Homo sapiens: one gene and its partner. The protein of the gene in region 2 purifies or fractionates together with the protein of the main gene of each other region. This does not show direct contact. Each region holds a gene or a part of one and is shown on either strand. Other genes may lie near its edges. The genes, in order: FARSB and AMD1.

What was found.
Region 1: the proteins of AMD1 (region 2) and FARSB purify together in Homo sapiens (affinity purification with mass spectrometry; one large-scale study listed by BioGRID and IntAct). This does not show direct contact.

Annotation. Positions count from the first base shown.
Region 1 is NC_000002.12:222,642,366-222,646,190, forward strand, and holds part of FARSB (phenylalanine--tRNA ligase beta subunit), read right to left. Parts: exon of another isoform or gene 3,257-3,825; intron 2,557-3,256; exon of another isoform or gene 2,520-2,556; intron 641-2,519; coding exon 486-640; intron 1-485.
Region 2 is NC_000006.12:110,888,231-110,892,055, forward strand, and holds part of AMD1 (S-adenosylmethionine decarboxylase proenzyme), read left to right. Parts: intron 1-105; exon of another isoform or gene 106-176; intron 177-626; coding exon 627-753; intron 754-2,023; coding exon 2,024-2,126; intron 2,127-3,825.

The DNA of each region.
Region 1 (3,825 bases), on a different chromosome or scaffold from region 2:
AATTGAAACTAGAGAGGCCAACTAACTTGCTCAAGATCACAGAGCCGTCATAAGATCTTTGGTTTTTCCAGTTAGGAGGCTTCACTCCTGAGCTTCCTTAGAACTCATAATGTAAGGGTATTTATTGCTAGCTCTCCATTTCCTCTCAACTTTTAACACATCCAGTGAACTACTCATTCCAATTAGATCACGGAGGGGAATCACACACACCTGCTAAATAATTTTTTAAGACGCCATAAAAGCATTAAACACCAGTTTTAAAATATGTTCTCAAAGATGAATGGCTATGACTAAAATTTTCATGGAAATTTTCAAATGGCTACAATCTGCATGAATCTAATTCCTCAAATCAACCCTCTATTGAGAGCTAAAGCTACGTTCCTCTACAAGCTTTTTCCTAGAAATTTAAACATGGCTGCTGATAATGACAAGGAAAGAAAAGAAAACCCAACTTAGCAAAGTCTTTAAGGAACATATTTCCTTACCTTTCTTTGAAGACCTGAAGTCCTCGAACCAATCCTTCCAGACACAGGAGATCATATCTATTGGCAGGGACGTCAATTTTGTAAAGAACAACATCAGAGGCTCCTGCTGCCTTTACATTACCTTGTTCTTTACTTATTATTTCCTTCTCAGATGTCTAAAACAAGCCAAAAAGTAATGATAAAAATTAAATAATTTAAACTCTCTTTAAAAAGTAAAAGTTGTCAGCCCTATAAGGCAGTAACTACATTATACATATTTTCTATAACAAGAACATGGGATTATTATATCCACGACAAAAACAACATGAAAATATTAAGTGTTATAATCATAGCAGACAGAAAAATACTTCAGCTTTAACTGAGTTCAGATATCTGGCAACCTCAATCACCCCAGAAAAGCACAAATCCATCTAAACAAGGGTCAGCAAGCAATAGCCCCCTGGCCAAATCATACCTGATACTTGTTTTTGTAAATAAAGATTTATTGGAACACAGACAGACCCATTCATTTACATATTATCTACTGCTACTTACACACTGCAATAGCTGAGTTGTAACAGAGACTATAGAGCCAAAAAGCCTAAATATTTACTATCTGGCCCTTTACAGAAAAAGTTTTCCCATCTCAAGCTAAAAGAAAATTAAAACATCACCAAGAACATAAAGTAACAACAACAAAAGTGTCAAAGGGGTAAAAGAAAGATGATTCACTAAATAAAAGAAACACAACTTCTTATAGGATGACTCTAAAACCTAAATCCTGTGGGCACCCAAGTCCACATGAGAATGAGAGGGGTAGTATAAAAACTAAAAACAGTCAGAGACCATCAGACACTGGTAAAAATTAGAAGGGATAATAGGTACAATGGGAAGCAAACTAGTGATAGCAAAGGGATAGTGCAGCAGAATGAAGGCAGCCAAGAGGGAGATGACAGAAGAAACACCACTAGAATCACGTTTAATGCAGTGGCAAAGAGTTTAGAATATCTCAAGCACCACACTACAGCAGAGTAACAGATTTTCTTAAACATAACCACTGCAGAGAAGTTACACTCTATTCCTTATGTTTACTACAGCAGGGAACTGTAAATATATTTAAGAAATTTTCACTTGAAATGATTACAAGTTGTATTCCAACTGTTAATGTTACGCTTTAATTATGTGGAAACTCCACTTAACCAGAATTCCTACTATTTCCACCACCAACAACCTGCTAAAATAACTGATGGATTTCTATCAAAATATGTAATGATTTTTGTTTTACATGATGCCCTCCCACTGCCACAATATAAGTAGTTCAAATTTTTGTCCAAATTAAGAATTATATCCACATTTGCACAATATGCAGAGAAATTCACTTCTGGCCACGAGTATTATGTGCCAAAGTCCCACCTGAGGAACCACAGGAGTCTATGCAATGCTGGGGCTGTACAAGGTGGTGCTGGGCTCCAAAAAACCTCTACCTTGGGCATCTCAAACTTAGGAGGCAAATTTTTATAATTAGGGAAAATGAAAAATGAAAAACAAGAGAATGAAGAGGAGGAGGAAGGAGTAAAAAGGGGGAAAAGAAAAGAAGGGGAATGGGGAGAGGCAAAAAGAGAAGAGGAAGAATTCGAGTTTAAACAATGTTCAATCAAAGGGGTTAATAAAATTACTGTTTCAATAGTGAAGAAAGCTGAGTCACCTCCCAGGAGATGGCAGATCTCAGGAGGGACCTATATACAGAGAAGATAATATAATAACCGGAGAAATGAAGGCATCTGCATTCATTTTTCAGCAGCACCCCCTTATCCACAGGGGATATGTTTCAAGCTCCCCAGTGGATGCCTGAAACATTGGATAGGACTAAATGTTACATATACCATGTTTCTTCCTATACATACATACCTATGAAAAAGTTTAATTTATAAATTAGGCACAGTAAGAGATTAACAACTAATAATAAAATAGAACAATTAAAATAATATACTATAATAAGAGTAATGTGAATGTAGTCTCTTTCTGTCTCAGAATTTCTTATTGTACTATACTCACCTATTTTCAAACCACAGTTTGCTGCAGGTAACCAAAACTGTGGAGGCAAAAAACTGTGGATAAGGAGGAACTACTGTAAAAAAAGATCTAATTCCTTTGCAAAAAAAAAAAAAGACACAGAAGCTTACATCTTCTTTCAGTTTCAGCATCTCAGCTCATACAATGACCATATGTAAAGACTGAATTTGTCAGTGCTACCTGACAATAATCTTACAGAAATTTAAAATCACATAAATTTCAGAGTCAAAAAAGAAAACCATAAAGATCATATAATCCAAACCCCTTATTTCACAAATGAAAAGGAGGCCCAGAGAGACTCGTCTGGACTATAGAGTTCAGACAGGCAAAGTAATTGTCCATAGTTACACAGCTAGTAAATGTTAGAACTAGAACTCAAATAATCTAACATCCAGTCCAACACTCTTAGATATCACATAATTTCAAACATAATTCTGAGGTGTAGTAAAATTACGAATAGCAACTTATAAACTACAGAAATCTCAGCCAATTTCTCAAGTATACAAATAGATTAGTACAAAGATGATCTTTCTGTAACATTAGTAAGGCAGCAGGAAAAATAAGGTAAGATAATGTACAATTTTTTAGCCTGAACATTTTTTAACTTTACACCTAAGGTAGTGTTATAAAAGCACTGAATAGGTGAAGATAGAAGGCTTAGGAAAAAAATAATACTAACTATCAGAAAATTATCTTTTAAATTAAAGTATGTCTTTTTTTTTTTTTGAGAAAAAAATTGGGCTTTTATTGGCAATTACAAAAGTAATAGATTTTCTTACATAATACGTTCCTTCAGTAATATATTTTTCAAGTATTTTACCATAGAATTTCTAAAGTACTTTGTCATTGACCCCATAATTTATTATAAAGTAGGTCCCATAATCACATTTTTTGGAAGTTGCTGAAATTGAGATAAAAAATATTGTTTTTTTATGAGAAAAACTGGACAAAATACAGAATGGCCAAAACTAGATTAACTGGCTCAGTTATGTCTACTAGGTGAAAGAAAATACAGAATCTGTTACTGTAGAAATTTTAAGAGGTTTTGAGTCAGTTCCAGTATAAAAATAAGGCCAAAGTTCTCCTGTAAAATCATCATTAAAAGTACAGAGAAGAGATCTATCATTCAAATTATAAAAGGAAACCTCATTCATTTCACAGTCTAAAAAAATGCCAATCTTACTAGGTGTTACTTTTGGCAGCAGAATAATTTCCTTATGGCCCAATACAATATAATTATTCCGACTAGATTACCAAATTCTCCATAATCCATCCTGTACTAAAATTG
Region 2 (3,825 bases):
TTAATTTATTCCATAAATACTTTTAATGCTTATAGTATATATTGTGATGGGCCTTGCTGGGGGATACTGGACTAAACAGCCCCTCCCCCCCTTTTTTTTTCTGAGGCGGAGTCTCAGTCTGTCCAGGCTGGAGTGCATTGGCGCAATCTCCTCTCACTGCAACCTCTGCCGCCCAGGTTCAAGCGATTTTCTTGCCTCAGCCTCCCAAGTAGCTGGTATTACAGGCGCCTGCCACTGTGCCCGGCTAATTTTTGTATTTTTAGTAGAGACGGGGTTTCATCATCTTGGCCAGGCTGGTCTTGAACTCCTGACGTGGTGATCCACCTCGGCCGCCTAAAGTGCTGGGATTACAGGTGTGAGCCACTGTGCCTGGCCTCTCTCTTTTTTTTTTTTAAACTAAGTTTATATTATGAATATACGAATGTTTATCAAAATGCTTACCATGTGCCAAGCCCTGGGGATGTTTTGTATACTAGAAAAGGAAAAGAATAATGTGTTACTTGCTTCCTTGAGATCCTAATATTTAAAAGTACTAGCCAAAATTGTAAATGATAATTAAATTGGTTGATTGCACCCTCAGTAGTACATTAGTATTGTTATAATATTGTGACTTTTTTCAACTGCAGTGAGAGTAGCATGTTTGTCTCCAAGAGACGTTTCATTTTGAAGACATGTGGTACCACCCTCTTGCTGAAAGCACTGGTTCCCCTGTTGAAGCTTGCTAGGGATTACAGTGGGTTTGACTCAATTCAAGTAAGTAAGCAAACATTTAAATATTTTTCAGGCATAAATGTTAGCGTTCTTATCCTGTAATATGCGAAGTAAATAAATTTATATACTTACTGCCTTTGTTACAATGCATGCAAACACGTGGTAAGGTGTTCATACCTTAGGAAGAGATCTGATTCTCAAGAACAGCAGAAAATAGGAAGCAGAGAATGAGTTAGGATGAAATTCAAATGGGAGAAAGAAATGAAGAAGCCAGACACTTCCAGTAGTTAATTTCTTAACATGGCTACTTATAATAATAGAGAAATGGTAAGAAAAGAAGGAAAAGCAAGAAAAATGTCGTTACTGAAATTGTCCAGTCTTTATAATGAAGAGTTAGGATGAAGAGCAACAGTCAGTATTGAGTTAAATTCTTATACTTTTCAAGAACTAAGGTGTTTTTACCTAGGGTATAATTTTCTGATTAGCAGTTGTTACATTTTATTTATTTTTTATTTTTTTGAGATGGAGTTTCGCTCTTGTTTCCCAGGCTGGAATGCAATAGCACGATCTCAGCTCACTGCAATCTGCACCTCCCAGGTTCAAGTGATTCTCCTGCCTCAGCCTCCCAAGTAGCTGGGATCACAGGTGCCCACCACCATGCCTGGCTAATTTTTTTTGTATTTTTAGTAGAGACGGTGTTTCACCATGTTGGCCAGGCTGGTCTCTTAACTCCTGACCTCAGGTGTTCCACCCACCTCAGTCTCCTAAAGTGCTGGGATTGCAGGCGTGAGCCACTGCACCCGGCCTGAATTTTAATCTTTAACTTCATAAGGAAAGGATGGATTGTCATTAGTACTCAATACAGTTTTTGTTGTTATGAATTGATCCTTGTAAGAAATCTAAAGCAATGTGTGCTTAACCGATGCTTAAAACTAATATGTTATTCCCCCCAAATTTTTGCTTATATGACTATTAATAAGCTCAGTTTAGAAACTACTGTTCTAGAAAGGAATATACTTGGTGTTAATAGTTGTTATGACCCATCATCACTAGACTGGGCTTTTTAAAAAAAAGAGAGAGAGAGAGAGATGGGGCCTCAGTATGTTGCCCAGGCTGGACTCCTGGGCCAAGTGATCCTCCTGCCTCCTAATAGCGAGACTACAGGCATATGCTACCATGCCAAGCTAAAATATTTGAGTTTTGATTTTGCCGAGTTTTTGATATGTGGACAATAGTTGATTAGCTTCGAAAAGTGATAGAATTCTACATCTAAAGTCATCTTTTTTTTTCTTTCTTTTCTTTTTTAATAAAGAGCTTCTTTTATTCTCGTAAGAATTTCATGAAGCCTTCTCACCAAGGGTACCCACACCGGAATTTCCAGGAAGAAATAGAGTTTCTTAATGCAATTTTCCCAAGTAAGTTTAAATAAAATATAAACCTGTTGTCTTCTTAAAGATAGAAAGTGCAACCTCAGAGATCTTTCTATATGAGAGCATACTTATGCATATATAGCATTCTACACACACTAATACTTGCTTTTCTTGTGGGTTTTTTGGTTTGTTTTAGACAGGGGTCTCATTCTGTCACCCATGCTGGTGCAGTGGTGTGATCACAGCTCACTGCAGCCTCAACATCCCAGGCTTAAGTGATCCTCCCACCTTAGCCTCCCAAGTAGCTGGGGCTACAGATGTTTGCCACCCCACCTGGCTAATTTTTTTTTAATTTTTAGTAAAGACAAGGTTTTGCCATATTGCCCAGGCCGGTCTTGAACGCCTGGGCTCAAGGGATCCACCTGCCTTGGCCTCCCAAAGTGCTAGGATTACAAGTGTGAGTTACTGCACCTGGTCCATATTTACTTTGACTTAGATGTTTTGGGAGTACAGTAGTGATCTTTATATAGCTTGTAATTCAAAATATGCAGAATTTATAAAGAACATTAAAATATCAGATAAAATATTTTTAGTTAAGATTAATAGCTTATTGCAAATTATGTATACACATGTAAAAATAATTGTGTATCATAAATCAGTGCTGTTTAAATGATGGAATTTTAAAATGTAGAATTGATCACCTGCCACCTCTGATTTTTCATACAGCATAGAGAGAGTTCATCTTCATCTGGCCATTCACTCTACTTTATGTCTCACTCAGTGGTTCTTTTTGCGTTTTTGTTTGAGACAAGTTTCACTTTGTCTCCCAGGCTGGAGAGCAGTGGCATCATTATAGCTCACTGCATTGTCAAACTCTTGAGTTCAAGCACCCAGCTAATTTTTATTTTATTTTTAGTAGAGATGGAATCTTGCTGTGTTGCCCAGGCTGGTCTTGAACTCCTGCCCTCTAGCAGTCCTCCAGCCTCAGTGGTTCTTAACATACAGATCATAATGTCCTTTGACAATATGAAGAAGGATATGATTCCCTTCAGAAAAATGCCTAGTGCTCTGCTCCAGCATTTTATATAATAATTGACCTGGCTTTTTAAAATTGCACAGTGTAAATTAGTGTTTCTTGAATGAAATTCGTAAGGGTTTCTTTCATCCATTTACTAAGCTTTTATTTATAGAGGTCAGGGAACAAAGGTTATCTGATAACATCCTTACTTCCTAGATAAGGCTGAAAACCTAAGATAATTTAGTAACTTTGCACAAAGTCGCTCATAAGCATGAAAATTGAACTTAGCACATCTACTAATATGAAACCAAACCAGGCTAATCAGAGTGTTGGGTATTTACTGCAAATACCCGCCAAGTCAGTCGATCCTGCTTATCTGGGAATTTACCTACTGTTTCCATTCCTTTCACTGATGACATTTCTTTTTTCTTGAGATGGCGTCTCGCTTTGTCACCCAGGCTGGAGTGGAGTGGCGTGATCTTGGCTCACTGCAACCTCCGCCTCCCGGGTTCAAGCAGTTCTCCTGCCTCAGCCTCCCAAGTAGCTGGGATTATAGGCATGTGCCAACACGCCCAGCTACTTTTTGTATTTTTAGTAGCGATGGGGTTTCATCATGTTGGCCAGGCTCGAACTCTTGACCTCAAGCCCACCTCTGCCTCCCTGCCAAAAGGGGTGGGATTATAGACATGAGCTACTATGCCCAGTCCACTGATGGATGACATTTCT